4 separate regions of the Homo sapiens genome follow, and regions 2, 3 and 4 are each reported to be linked to region 1. The links are microRNA targets in miRTarBase. Many come from high-throughput screens and were not tested one by one. Region 1 holds a microRNA gene; each other region holds the end of a gene's coding sequence.
Evidence for each region. Region 1 holds the annotated microRNA hsa-miR-3160-3p (AGAGCUGAGACUAGAAAGCCCA, at 1,884-1,905, opposite strand). A microRNA usually pairs through its seed, bases 2 to 8, with sites in the 3' UTR of a target mRNA and lowers its output. Matches are read on the target gene's strand: a 7mer-m8 pairs with bases 2 to 8, a 7mer-A1 pairs with bases 2 to 7 and ends in A, and an 8mer does both.

Region 1 (3,194 bases):
ATCTGTAATCCCAGCTATTCAGGAGGCTGAAGCAGGAGAATCGCTTGAACACAGTAGGTGGAGCTTGCAGTGAGTCGAGATCACGCCACTGCACTCCAGCCTGGGCAACAGAGCGAGACTGTCTCAAAAAAAAAAAAAAAAACAACTAATGTCCACACAAACACCTACACATGGATATTTATAGCAGCTTTATTTATTTATTCATAATTGTCAAAACTTGGAAGCAACCAAGATGTTCTTCATTTAAGAGATGAATGGATAAACTGTGGCACATCCATACAATGGAATATTATTCATGCTAAAAGAAATGAGCTATCAATCCACAAAAAGACATGGAGGAACCTTAAGTGCATGTTACTAAATGAAAGAAGTCAAAGGCTACATACTATAGGATTCCAACTGTATGAGATTCTGGAAAAGGAAAAGTTATAGAGACAGAAAAATGATGGGTAGTTGGTAGGGGTTGGTTTGCAGGGAGGCAGAGACGAACAGGTGAGCACAAGATTTTTTTTTTTTTTCTTTTCTTGAGAGAGGGTCTCACTCCATTGCCCAGGCTGGAGTGCAGTGGTGCAATCACGGCTCACGGAAGCCTCAATTTTCTGGGCTCAGATGATCCTCCCACCTCAGCCTCCCGAGTAGCTGGGGCTACAGGTGTGTGCCACCATGACCAGCTGATTTTTTTTGTATTTTTTGTAGAGATGGGGTTTCACCATGTTGCCCAGCCTTGTCTCCAACTCCTGAACTCAAGAGATCCACCTGCCTTGGCCTCCCAAAGTGTTGGGATTATAGGCATGAGCCACCATGTACAGCCACAAGGAGATTTTTTAAGCAGTAAAGTTATTTTCTATGTTACTACAATGTTGGATACATGGCACATACATTTGCCAAAACCAGTGAAATTTACAACACCAAGCATGAACCCTAATGTAAACGCATACTTTGAGTGATAATGATGTGTCTACGTTGGTTCATCAGCTGCAGCAAATGTACCACACTGGTGTGGACAGTGGGGAAGCCTGTGGGTGTAAGGGGAGGGAGTATATGGGAACTGTCTGTATTTTCCACTCAACTTTTAATAAACCTAAAAAAGAGGGAGGGGCCACGACTTTCATTCACATTCTAGGAGACAGTGGGAACAGCAGCTGTTCATAAGGACAATACTAGTCATGGTAGTTCATATCTATCATATAACCACAGAAATTCCTTTCATTGAGGCTTAGAGCAAAAGAAGAAATAAAGATTATTCTGATGACAGACAAAACAAGGAGGAAAAGAAGCTTAAATCCAGTGATCCTGGCTAACTATCAGCCAACAACAATGGCAAAAACTAAGCTGCCAAGTCTCATTCCAGAGTCAGGTCTTCAACTTGTAGGCCAGAGCTCCCAGAATGTGTCTAGGGATAAAATCATAATAATCATCACAGTCACATGATAGGTGAGCTCTGCCAAGCCTAATAGCCTCTGTGCATCTCTCTACCTTTGCTTCTCTCAGAAACTCTTCTCTTCTGTTGCTTGGAAAGAATTAGGAATCTTTTTTCAAAACAGCTTCACAGCTTCTCTCTAAGATTTGTTCTAGGAGAAGGGAAATGAAAAGTATGATTCAACAGTTCAGTGAAGATACTGAACAATGGGAATCATTAGCAAATCTATCAGAAAAGCTAATTCGGGGAAGGTAAAAAAGGGCAAGTTGCAAAGAAGGAAATGATTAAATTACATTTCAGTCCTGAAAAATCTGTTTAACTTGAGACTTTCTAATTCAGAATGGCCATCTCTGACTGTGTGCTGCTGGGAAGATGAAATAAGAATGGGGTTGGGGATGTAAACACTCATCATCCTGGAGACACAATTACTATCTTTCTGCTTGGCTGTTATATGAACCTGCCCTGGGCTTTCTAGTCTCAGCTCTCCTGACCAGCTGAGCTGGAGGAGAGCTGAGACTAGAAAGCCCAGGGCAGGTCCAACTGAAAAACTTATCAACTTTTCAAACAGATTGACAGTTGCTTTGGGCTGGAGGGATGTGAGAGAGGGAAAGGGGAAGTGACTGCTGATGTGTATGGGGTTTTTTAGGAGGTGATAAAGATGATATGAAATATCTAGATAGAGGTGATGACTGCACAACTCTATATACTAAAAGCCATTGAAATGTATACTTTAAATAGGTGGCCTGTATGGTAGGTGAATCATATCTCAATAATGCTGTTATTAAGAAAACACTATTCAAATAAATGTCTATCAATTTGTGAAGTAAAAAATGGTAATCCTATTTTTTGGATCCATTTCATTTCCTTAATAATTAAGAGTATTGGTGAACATCTTTTCATTTGTTTACCAGCTCACTGTGTATCTTTTAGATGGTCTACTAGTGTCTTATGTACATTTTAAAAACCTTTGTTATTTTAAGGTTTTTTGTTGTTGTTGTTGTTGTTGTTTGTTTTTTAGATGGGGCCTCACTATGTTGCCCGGCTTGCCTTGAACTCCTGGCCCTTAAGTGATCCTCCTGCCTCAGACTTCCCAGTAACTAGGACAACAGGCACATGCTACCCTACCTAGCTTTGGTTACTTTAACTTTTCTCTTATGGATTATCTGAGCTCTCTGTAAATAAATACACTGGCTTCTGTTTACAAAAAATAATTCTCAGAGCAAGGGAACCATCTTCCCTTTCTGAGTATATCTGCATGGCATCCTAGGAAGAACACTTAATCTTCTTTCCAGAAAGCTTCATTCAAATGCAGTCTTAAAATCTGTCCTAAGAAAGGGGTATAACTAAGTACTCAGTCACACTCACTCTAATCATCATTTAATCTAATCTGAAATCACAGTCAATGTATCCTATAGCCTGGTACCTGGAAAAAGTCCCTGATGACAAATAAGAAGACTTCTTCCATGCTTAGAAGTGTCCCAAGTTTCTCTGAGTTCTCATTTATGATTCTGACATTGAGAAAAATGCCCAAATATATATGTGTGTCTGTCTGTTTAAAATTATAGCTTTACTGAGATATAACTTACAATTCACCTATTTTAAAGTATACAATTCAAGGTTATTAGCATATCCGCACAGTTATGTAACCATCAGCAAATAAATTTTACAACCACCATCATTACTGTCTAATTTCAGGCATTTTCATCTCCCCTAAATACCGTACCCATTAACAGTCACTCCCTTTTACTCTGTCCCACTCCTGCCCTAGCCCTAG
Region 2 (3,194 bases), not on the chromosome of region 1:
TTTTTTTTTTTTTTTTGAGACAGAGTCTTGCTCTGTCGCCCAGGCTGGAGTGCAGTGGTGCAATGTCAGCTCACTGCAACCTCTGCCACCTGGGTTCAAGCAATTCTCCTATCTCAGCTTCCCGAGTAGCTGGGACTACAGGCACACACCACCACACCTGGCTAGTTTTTATATTTTTAGTAGAGACAGGGTTTCACCATATTGGTCAGGCTGGTCTCGAACTCTTGACCTCAGGTGATCCACCTGCCTCGGCCTTCCAGAGTGCTGGGATTAAAGGTGTGAGCCACTGTGCCTGGCCACTCCCTTGAGACTCAGTTTCCACGTCTGTGAAATGGGGGAATACCCACAGTGAGAATTAGATGAGATAGATGCATTTGAAACCACAAATCGGGGTGCCCACCTGTGGTGGGTAGTTAGGTAGCTGTTACAAAGTGCCCCAGCAGAGACCCCCTTGACTAACTTTTATTCTTCCATCTTTTCCCACAGGTGGCAGCTGCCAACAAGAAGCATTAGAACAAACCATGCTGGGTTAATAAATTGCCTCATTCGTAATCCTGGTCTGGGTCTCTTTTTTGAGTCTCTTGCTCTGTCGCCCAGGCTGGAGTGCAGTGGCGCCATCTCAGCTCACTGCAATCTCCGCCTTCTGGGTTCAAATGATTCTCCTGCCTCAGCCTCCCAAAGTGCTGGGATTACAAGTGTGAGCCACTGTGCCTGGTCTGGTTTGGGTCTCTTGATTGTTCTTCAGGGGCATGAGGAAGAGGCGCTTCCTCCCTTCCCTTGGGTGAGGGGGCCCAGGGTGATTGGGTGGCTGTTTACCCGGCAGCCAGTCGGGCCTTCCCAGGTCAAACAGTTCCCATCTGGGTTTGGAGGAAGGACCCAGGGGCCCTTGTGGCTCACTCCCCCACATCCTGTCTTTGCAATTGTCAGAAAGTGAGAAACGAAAGGATGGCTGTGAGCTGTGACCTCAGCTGGGCCTGGGCTGCAGAGGTGGCTTCCGCTGGAGTAAAGCAAGAGGGCCCAGGGTTCATGCTCTTCCCTGGAAGGTAGAAAAGGACAGACCACCAGGGAGCCTCCACCGCAAACTGACCTGTGCTGCCTACACACTAACTTTCCTGGGCCTGGGGCCTGCACAGGCTGAATGGTCCTTGAGCCTTCACTCTGCATCTGAGCGGTCTTGGGCCCGCTGAGTGGCAGTGGCAGGAAGTCGGTGGAAGCAGATCCCTGTGCAGAAGTTGAATTACCAGGGCGGCCACACACGGGCTGCACAACCTTTGCAGTCGTGCACGGCAAGTGGGATGTGGCCTCCGCCCATGATTGGGCACCTGGTCAGGCTGGGAGATCCAAATAGCACCCAGTGGGCAGCTGTCCGACCCCTGGAGGGGCAAGCCAGGAAAGAAACTTAGGGCCCGCTGTGACCAGATGTCCCTCCCAGTTGGGAAGACTAAACTGGTTTGGCCAATATCTCCCAGGATTCCCCTGTCCAAATTATTCCTGGGATCTGACCCATTTCCTGGAAAGGGGCGAGCCTGGGTTTTGAAGTTCAAACTAGAGTTTAAATCACAACTCTGCCCCTAATCCCACGTAACCCTGTGCACCTTATCCTCTGAGCCTTCGTCTCCTCGTGTGTAAGCCTGCTAACTCCTGAGAGACTGGACAAGATGCCGTGGAGAGCCTTGGCTCTGAGTAGCTCTGCTGCTGGACAGTTCAGTTGGCAGTCCCCAAACGTAAGGCGTAAGAGTTTAAGAAGTATCGGCCAGGCACAGTGGCTCACACCTGTAATCTCAACACTTTGGGAGGCCGAGACGGGCTGATCACCTGAGGTTGGGAGCTTGAGAACAGCCTGACCAACATGGAGAAACCCTGTCTCTAAAAATACCAAAATTAGTTGGGCATGGTGGCGCGCACCTGTAATCCCAGCTACTCAGGAGGCTGAGGCAGAAGAATCGCTCGAACCCCGGAGGCGGAGGTTGCAGTGGGTTGAGATCGAGCAATTGCAATCCAGCCTGGGCAACAGAGCGAGACTCCATTTCAAAAAAAGAATCAATAAAAATGTTAAAAGCACCGTTGTTTACACTCAGCAACTCTGTGAAGTAAGTGCCGAAAAGTGCTTTGGAGGTAGGTAAAGTAAGCCATAGGCTGGGTAACTTGCCAGATATCCCACAGCTGGAGCCATCATATGAACCCAAGCAACCCAGCTGCAGCCTGGACCTAGCCACTCCAAGGGCTCTGTGCCTCAGAAAAGAGGCCCAAAGGGTTGCACTCTAGCTGCAGGCCAGTCACTCCCCATTCTGGGCTCTAGTTTCCTCTTTTGGCCATTAATGAAAACATTTCCCAGAGCTGACATGAGAACTCAATGCCAAGCGTCCGGTTTGCACAGCAGCAGGCATTGCGCTTCCCAGGTAGGAAGCAAGGTCTAGGTGTCCCGAGCAGGCCTGCAATCCCGCAGCCGCGCCGCTCCAGCCACTGGGGAGCAGTAGAGGGCCTAGAAAGAAGCTCAGCCACCGAAGGCTCTTGAAGGTGAATTCCTAGGGCTTCCAGGTCTGGAGCCAGGCTTATTCCTGGGAGGGGGTTGTAACGGGGAATTGAAGTGCAGAGGGGCTAGTGACCCCAGCAGAACACCTGGGGTCCTGGTTCCCAGGGCTACAGAACTGTCCTAGATACTGTGCCAAATGCACTGCAGAATATTCTTGCAGTCTTATCAAGTGGGGGGTTTGTACCCATGTTATAGGAGAAAAAACTGAGTTTCAGATGACCAGTCAGTTGGCAGAGCTGAGTTGTAAAAGAATCCTGGACTCTTGAGGCCCAGGCTCTTCTGCGTGGATGGGAATTGCCCTTTTCCCATCTCCTGGGTTCACGCCATTCTGCCTCAGCCTCCCCAGCAGCTGGGACTACAGGCACACGCCGCCATGCCCGGCTAATTTTTGTATTTTTAGTAGAGACGGGGTTTCACTGTGTTAGCCAGGATGGTTTTGATCTCCTGACCTTCTGATCCGCCCGCCTCAGCCTCCCAAAGTGTTGGGATTACAGGCGTGAGCCACCGCGCCCAGCTGGCAATTGCACTTTTTTAAAATTCTGCACTCTAGGAGGCAGAGGTGGGCAGATCACTTGAGGTCAAGAGTTTGAGACCTTGGCCTGGAGTGGTGGCTCACACCTGTAATCCCAACACTTGGAGAGGCCGAGGCAGGTGGATCACC
Region 3 (3,194 bases), not on the chromosome of region 1:
ACACTTTTAAACAACCGGATCTTGCGAGAACTCGCTATCATGAGAACAGCACCAAGAAGATGGTGCTAAGTCATTCATGAGAAATCTGCTCCCATAACCCAATCACCTCCCACCAGGCCCCACAACCAGCATTGGGGATTACATCTTGACATGTGATTTGGTAAGGACACAGATCCAAACCATATCAATGGTCTTTCCCCTAAAAATATACCATTTGTATATACCTGTATATATAAATAAAATATCTCAGGGATTTTGACTGGAGAGGGTGTAGGGGCAGTAGGAGAGGAAGAAAGAAAGAAAAAGAAAGAGATGAAAATTTCTGGAATCAAGTCCTGTCTCATAAGCTAAGTTATCAGAATCAAAGGATGAAGTATTCTGACACAAAGGGCTAGTGAATCTTGAGAACTCTGGATTTATGCATCTACTGTAGAGGTCGTCAGGGATAATATGATGATAGCAGGGCAGCAGGGAGGGAGCTCTTAGTAATAGGAGCTGATCAAGATCCAGAGCACTGTAAGGTCAGAAACAGAAATTTTCTTTTAATGAGTATAAAAGAGTTTACATGAAATGAGAATTAAAATATACAAGATACCAGAAAAAAAAACCTGTAACTTCTTAATAGGAACAAAATAACCAACTAAGGTATTTTAATTATTAAAAGTAGATTTTTTTAATTAGAAATAGAGGAATGAAAGAACTTATTTTTCTCATGGGAATAAAACGAAACCCAAATGTGTGAGAGTCAGAGGCACAGATTTTGACCTTTAAGAAATAATTTTATCTTTGTGAGAATGCCAGGGGCAAACTGCTAAAGAGAAATGGAAGAATCAAGTTTCTTCTTTAATCCATGTGTATATAACTTATGTTTGAATCCCGTATAAGAACTAAGAAACACTGTTTACTTGAACTATGATAATTGTCTGTATTTAAAAAGTTGTGCTTAAATATATTGTTTGTAATTTTTACTAAATTTTCACACTTGACATTTTTCCTTTGTTCTAGAGTTTCTGTTGGTGCCTATATAAAACATTGATTAGTTGATAATTTTAAATATTTAGAGAATAAGAAGCTACTAGATGGTATGTATGAAGTGGTAGTTTCAAAGGACTGTCAAAGTATTGAAATGCATCTAACTTTGAATTTAGATTATATCAATTTTCCAGTAAATTCTAGATTTCTGATCTAGCAAAATCAGTATCAAAGGCTAATTTATCATTATTTTCTTCCTATATATAGCTATGGAACTATGTGAAGATAAATGGAAAACTACATCCTTTACCAGTACTCTGAAATCAGCAATTTTGTTCCAGGAAAAATCTTGAACCCTAGATTTACAATATTTAGCATCTAGTGTGCAGGAACACTGACAAACTGTGATTCAGGAAAGGTCTAAATAATTAAAGATAATGGTTCTTCTATTTTGATGTCTTCAAACAGTTTATTAGGACTTTTCTGAGGGAAACAAAATATCAATTGTAAGAGAATATATTTTTATAATAATACCCAGATTACAAAATCAATAACATCAATATTACTAATTTAAATAAATGACAAACACATAAATATTGGCCAGGGGCAGTGGCTCACACCTGTAATCCCAGGATTTTGGGAGGCTGAGGCTGGCAGATAGCTTGAGCCTAGGTGTTTGAGACCAGCCTGGGCAACATGGTGAAACCTCGTCTCTACAAAAAAATACAAAAATTAGCTGAGCATGGTGTTGCATGCCTGTGGTCCCAGGTATTCGGGAGGCTGAGGTGGGAGGGATCGATTGAGCCCAGGAGATTGAGGCTGCAGTGAGCCAATCACATCACAATACTACAGCCTAGGCAACAGAGTGAGACAGTGTCTCAAAAAAAAGTAAATATTAAATTATTATGCCTAGATTATAAATTATCTAAATTTTAAAGATTAATAAGAACGCTTATTTTCATAGGGTTGTTGGAGAAGAAAAGCTATTTTGCAAGTGCAGGGCGACACTTAGCTGGTTCACAGTGGTACAAACATTTGCTAAAATAAAATATTTCCAAATCAGTTGATACAGTGCTGCAGCCCCAGCTACCAGGACCCTTAGCCTGGGATCCCCCAGACCTCCACATGACCCAGCAACTATCACAACAGGCATCTCTTGGACCTTGTTCTAGTGCTGTGGCCTGTGTTTTTAAATATTTAAATATCACCCTAGTTTTTAAATATTTAAATATCACCCTAGTGCACACGTGACAGTATAATAATAATGAAAGAAAGGAGTCTTTATTTGAGAAAGCAAAGAAATTCAGTGAAATGATTCTGAGACAATCATAGGGCCATAGTATGGCTATTCCCCTTTGTCCCCAGGTATAATTTTAAGACCGAATAATAACATCAAATCAGAAGACGTCAGACAAGGAACTGGAGAATGTTCTGTTAAACAAGTTCATTTGTCTGATAATGTAAATACACAGTCATTTTAAAAGCTGGTTTGGCTCTGGTACCGTAGTTTCCTCTTTCCTCATATGAGCTTACTCACAAGTCTCTTACTTCTTGGAGAATTTGGAAGAAGCATACTAATCCAAATCCTCAGTCTTCACTGGGGCAGCTGTCTTCTCGCAAATCCAAAAAATTTCAGCACTACAGCGAGAAATATAAATATTTCCTTTTTGAAAATAAGCACATCCTTTGGATCCATTGATCTGGTCAAGTTCTTTAGTACTAAATCTGAAAATTAATTTAAAATTAATTATAAATTCTGTATTTGAAACGTGATCACTATTTAGTGCCCTCAGTTGCTCTTACAGCCAATGTCATGTATCTGAATATGGAGAGACTTCTGCCTCCACAAAGCTTCAAAATCTGAAGCTGCCTAAAGCTGGCACAAAATCTGCCCAGAGCTGGCACATCTGGGTTCTTTATTTTAAGTTAATCATAATCCCAGGTAGAATTCTTTAAGAGAAATACTTAAATCCTGGACTGAGAATTTGTATTTCCTTCATAAATATGTAATTCCATTAATGAAATCTAATCAGTTCAGCTTATATTAGAAGTACTTGAAGTTCTTTGGGACCTTATGAAGAAAAACATAAAAATAAAATCACATTCTGTTGTAAAAAGTTATCACATTTTATTATGCACAAATATAATTTTTCACATAGTTATACATATGTGGTGGGTAAAAAGAGAACAAGACAGACGTTAAAAGAGGAAATGATTGACTA
Region 4 (3,000 bases), not on the chromosome of region 1:
TGAGTTAAATATAGAAAATAATTTGCACAAACAAAAATAACTCCACTTTCCCTTGCTCCTAGTCACAACGAATACCACTCTTCCTCAAATGGAGACAAAAATGACTCACAAGCCCCTCACCTGGCACAAGGGGGCTTGTAACTTCAAAGCAACCAAGGTTGGGCTCTTCCTCCAAGCAGAAAAATTCACAGCCTTTTATATGTCAAGTTTTCTCTCAACTAGGAAGTCGTTAAAGTTTTTAAGTACATTACATATTTTGTTAAGGAGCAGCAGGAAATATATAAATCTCCTCTCAGATGGTGAGATGGTACACCTAACTCATCCAAATAAAGTTAACCTATTTCACTCGTTTAAAGAGCTTGGAATTGAGGAACTTTTAAATTAAAAAAACTATCAACTGGGGCCAGGCGCGGTGGCTCACACCTGCAATCCCAGCACTTTGGGAGGCCGAGGCGGCCAGATCACCTGAGGTCAGGAGTTCAAGACCAGCCTGGCCAACGTGGTGAAACCCTGTCTCTACAAAAATACAAAAATTAGCTGGGCGTGGTGGTGGGCACCTCTAATCCCAGCTACTCGGGAGGCTGAGGCGGAAGAATCGCTTGAACCCAGGAGGCGACGTTGCAGTGAGCCAAGATTGTGCCACTGCACTCCAGCCTGGGTGACAGAGCAAGACTCCATCTCAAAGAAGAAAACAACAAAAAAATAAAAACAAAACAAAAATCAGTTGGAATTGCAAACACCGTGTGTGACTTTCACTCAAAGTATCGGTGTCAAAATGTCCTACAGGAACACCTAGAAGCACAGGTTGACTATACAGTACTACAAATAAGATACCCAAAGCTTTATCTTAAATACCTGCCCCTTTTAATCACAAAATAATGCAATGCTCAATTTTGTTTCTGCTTTGTTCAGTTCCAAGTGTAGCCTTTTGACAAAACATTTCCCTATTAACTGAATTGTAAAAAATACAACCAAGCTTGTGCTCATTAAATATACATGTATATAAAAAACATACAAAAAGTACAAGATTATGTTAGGAAACTTTTACAGTGTCAACATCCTGATTTCTCAAAATCTTCAGTAGAGGGCCAAAGGTCAAATCTTTCTGTGCACAAAAACTTGATGTGACTGAAATCCTGAATCAGTGTCATGCCTAGGCATGCTATGCACAGAATGAATTTTAATATGCAGTCCTCTTTTAAAAAAAAAAAAAAAGGACAAAAAAAGTAACCAAAAAAAAAACCAAAAACACACCACAGGACAAAAAGTTCTTCTTAAATCAAATTCTATTTGTGAATTCAGCAAAATAATTTCTATAAAATAAAACAGCAAAATATTTAAATAGAATAGGGTGGGCTGTATCTGTTTGCAGGGGTATTTGGTTTTTAGACAGGTTCCAAAAAATTACACACATTCAAGTTACCAATTCTCTTTTAAATACAGTATGAACTGAGGATTTCCTTATTTTTAATCAAATGTTTATTCTGAAATTGTAATATCTCAATTATATCAACCAGTAGTTTCTTTTTTAATGAGACCCTGCTTTGAACGTTAAACGTTTTGGAATAATGGAAAAGGAGCTAGGACAATTCTTGCTTTCAAGTAAAATTGTGACTGAGCAGAAAATCAGCCAGCTATCTTGGTGCAGAGAGGTACTCCAAGTACCGTGGGGTTCTGATGACTTCCACGTCACTGGGATCCAACAGAAGGAAAGTTTTAGAAGATTCACCTAATAAACTCTACCAAAGAAACAAAACAAGCACACCAAATACAGTCTTATATTATGCTCCAGCATCTTGGCATAGCAAATTTTTGCATATTTGTTTTAAATCTTTAAAAATTCCCATTACTGATACGTAAGTGTTCTTTATTCCACCCAGAGATTGAACTGTCAAACATTATATATAAGGAACATATGTGCAACTGAAAATAGACTGTCACATTTCTCCCCTTGTTTTATATTTTAATATTCTAGGTGTAAGAAGTAAAAGCTCTGAGTAATACAGCTGTCACTTCTCGGACAACTGCTGTCATTATGGTAACTTTTTCCTCATTGGCTACACTAACTTGGTGTGAAGCCATGCTAAATGTTACAGCATAACTATAGCTTCAAAGTGATTAACCTAATATCAGAATAAAAAGGCAATGAAAAAAATCTAGAAACAGTGTTACATCACCAATTTTCCACATCAACCAAATAATTTAAAGGTTACCAGCCTTACATTGCTCATAGCAAAATTGACTCCAGTGGCAAAGAATTAACATGAAACTATTGGTGTGGCTGACATGGATGGGCTCTGTTTTGTTGCTGTTGGTTTTTTTTTTTTCTTTTTTGTAAAGGAGCTGATCCAACTGCCATGAGGCAGGCAACACTGGTTGCAGAGTGCAGTGGGTGTAACAAGAAAATTAACTTTTGTAGTTTGTGTAGATCTGTGAGTCTCATCAAGAAAAAAGTTTCTTGCTTAAGAATTAACAGTCAACATTAATATACTATATACACCTTTGCCATTTACACATTAGCATCAGGCCATTTATTACAAAACACTATACACTTTCCACTGCAGGCGGGTTATATATTGACAGCAAATTTCTGCAGATAAGACAGTGAATAAACTCTCCACTCCATGTTGATTAGGAATAGTTTTTCTAGTTTTAAATATTAGCCAGACACAGAAAAAGGTTGGACTGTAAGGCCTGGGTGCACAGTCTTGATGGAACCAGTTAATTATGTGCATTTCATTGATCCTTGGTTTGAGGTGGGGATACTTCTTCACTGCCTTCATAATTTTCTTGTGCTCGTTGGCCAGTTCTCTGAGGGTTGTTCATGTGATGTGCTGCTGGGCCTGTATATGGCTGTCCATGCACATGGTTATTCTGGGAAAGGAGAAAAGATCTGTATGTTAAAACTTTTCACATAGTAAAACAACTTCAAAATCATGGTCTGAAGTCTCTGGAAATGTATACTCTTATTCTTGGGACTTACTCTGTAAATACCCTTGG

Region 2: miRTarBase lists RPS19 as a target of hsa-miR-3160-3p. Seed matches in the 3' UTR shown: 8mer at 620-627.
Region 3: miRTarBase lists CLEC12B as a target of hsa-miR-3160-3p. The part of its 3' UTR that is shown has no 7-base or 8-base seed match.
Region 4: the mRNA of USP9X is a reported target of hsa-miR-3160-3p. Seed matches in the 3' UTR shown: 7mer-m8 at 2,341-2,347.

The regions. Positions count from the first base shown.
Region 1 is chr11:46,449,932-46,453,125 of GRCh38, forward strand. It overlaps MIR3160-1 (microRNA 3160-1), which reads right to left and starts at 1,958; the gene lies at 1,874-1,958. The region is part of intron 11 of AMBRA1 (autophagy and beclin 1 regulator 1); the gene reads right to left. MIR3160-2 (microRNA 3160-2) reads left to right here and starts at 1,876; the gene lies at 1,876-1,956.
Region 2 is chr19:41,870,865-41,874,058 of GRCh38, forward strand. It overlaps RPS19 (ribosomal protein S19), which reads left to right. Exons shown (of 6, transcript NM_001022.4): 6 at 487-2,061. The coding sequence ends at 513. Among named protein-coding and RNA genes, the nearest start is that of MIR6797, 2.8 kb to the left of the region's middle. RefSeq lists enhancers at 612-681, 922-1,181, 2,495-2,744.
Region 3 is chr12:10,017,834-10,021,027 of GRCh38, reverse strand. CLEC12B (C-type lectin domain family 12 member B) reads right to left here. Exons shown (of 6, transcript NM_001129998.3): 6 at 2,232-2,697. The coding sequence ends at 2,547. All of the region lies in intron 2 of LOC102724020 (a long non-coding RNA gene), which reads left to right. Among named protein-coding and RNA genes, the nearest start is that of CLEC12B, 8.8 kb to the right of the region's middle.
Region 4 is chrX:41,232,261-41,235,260 of GRCh38, reverse strand. USP9X (ubiquitin specific peptidase 9 X-linked) reads right to left here. Exons shown (of 45, transcript NM_001039591.3): 45 at 1-2,874. The coding sequence ends at 2,737. Among named protein-coding and RNA genes, the nearest start is that of LINC02601, 42 kb to the left of the region's middle.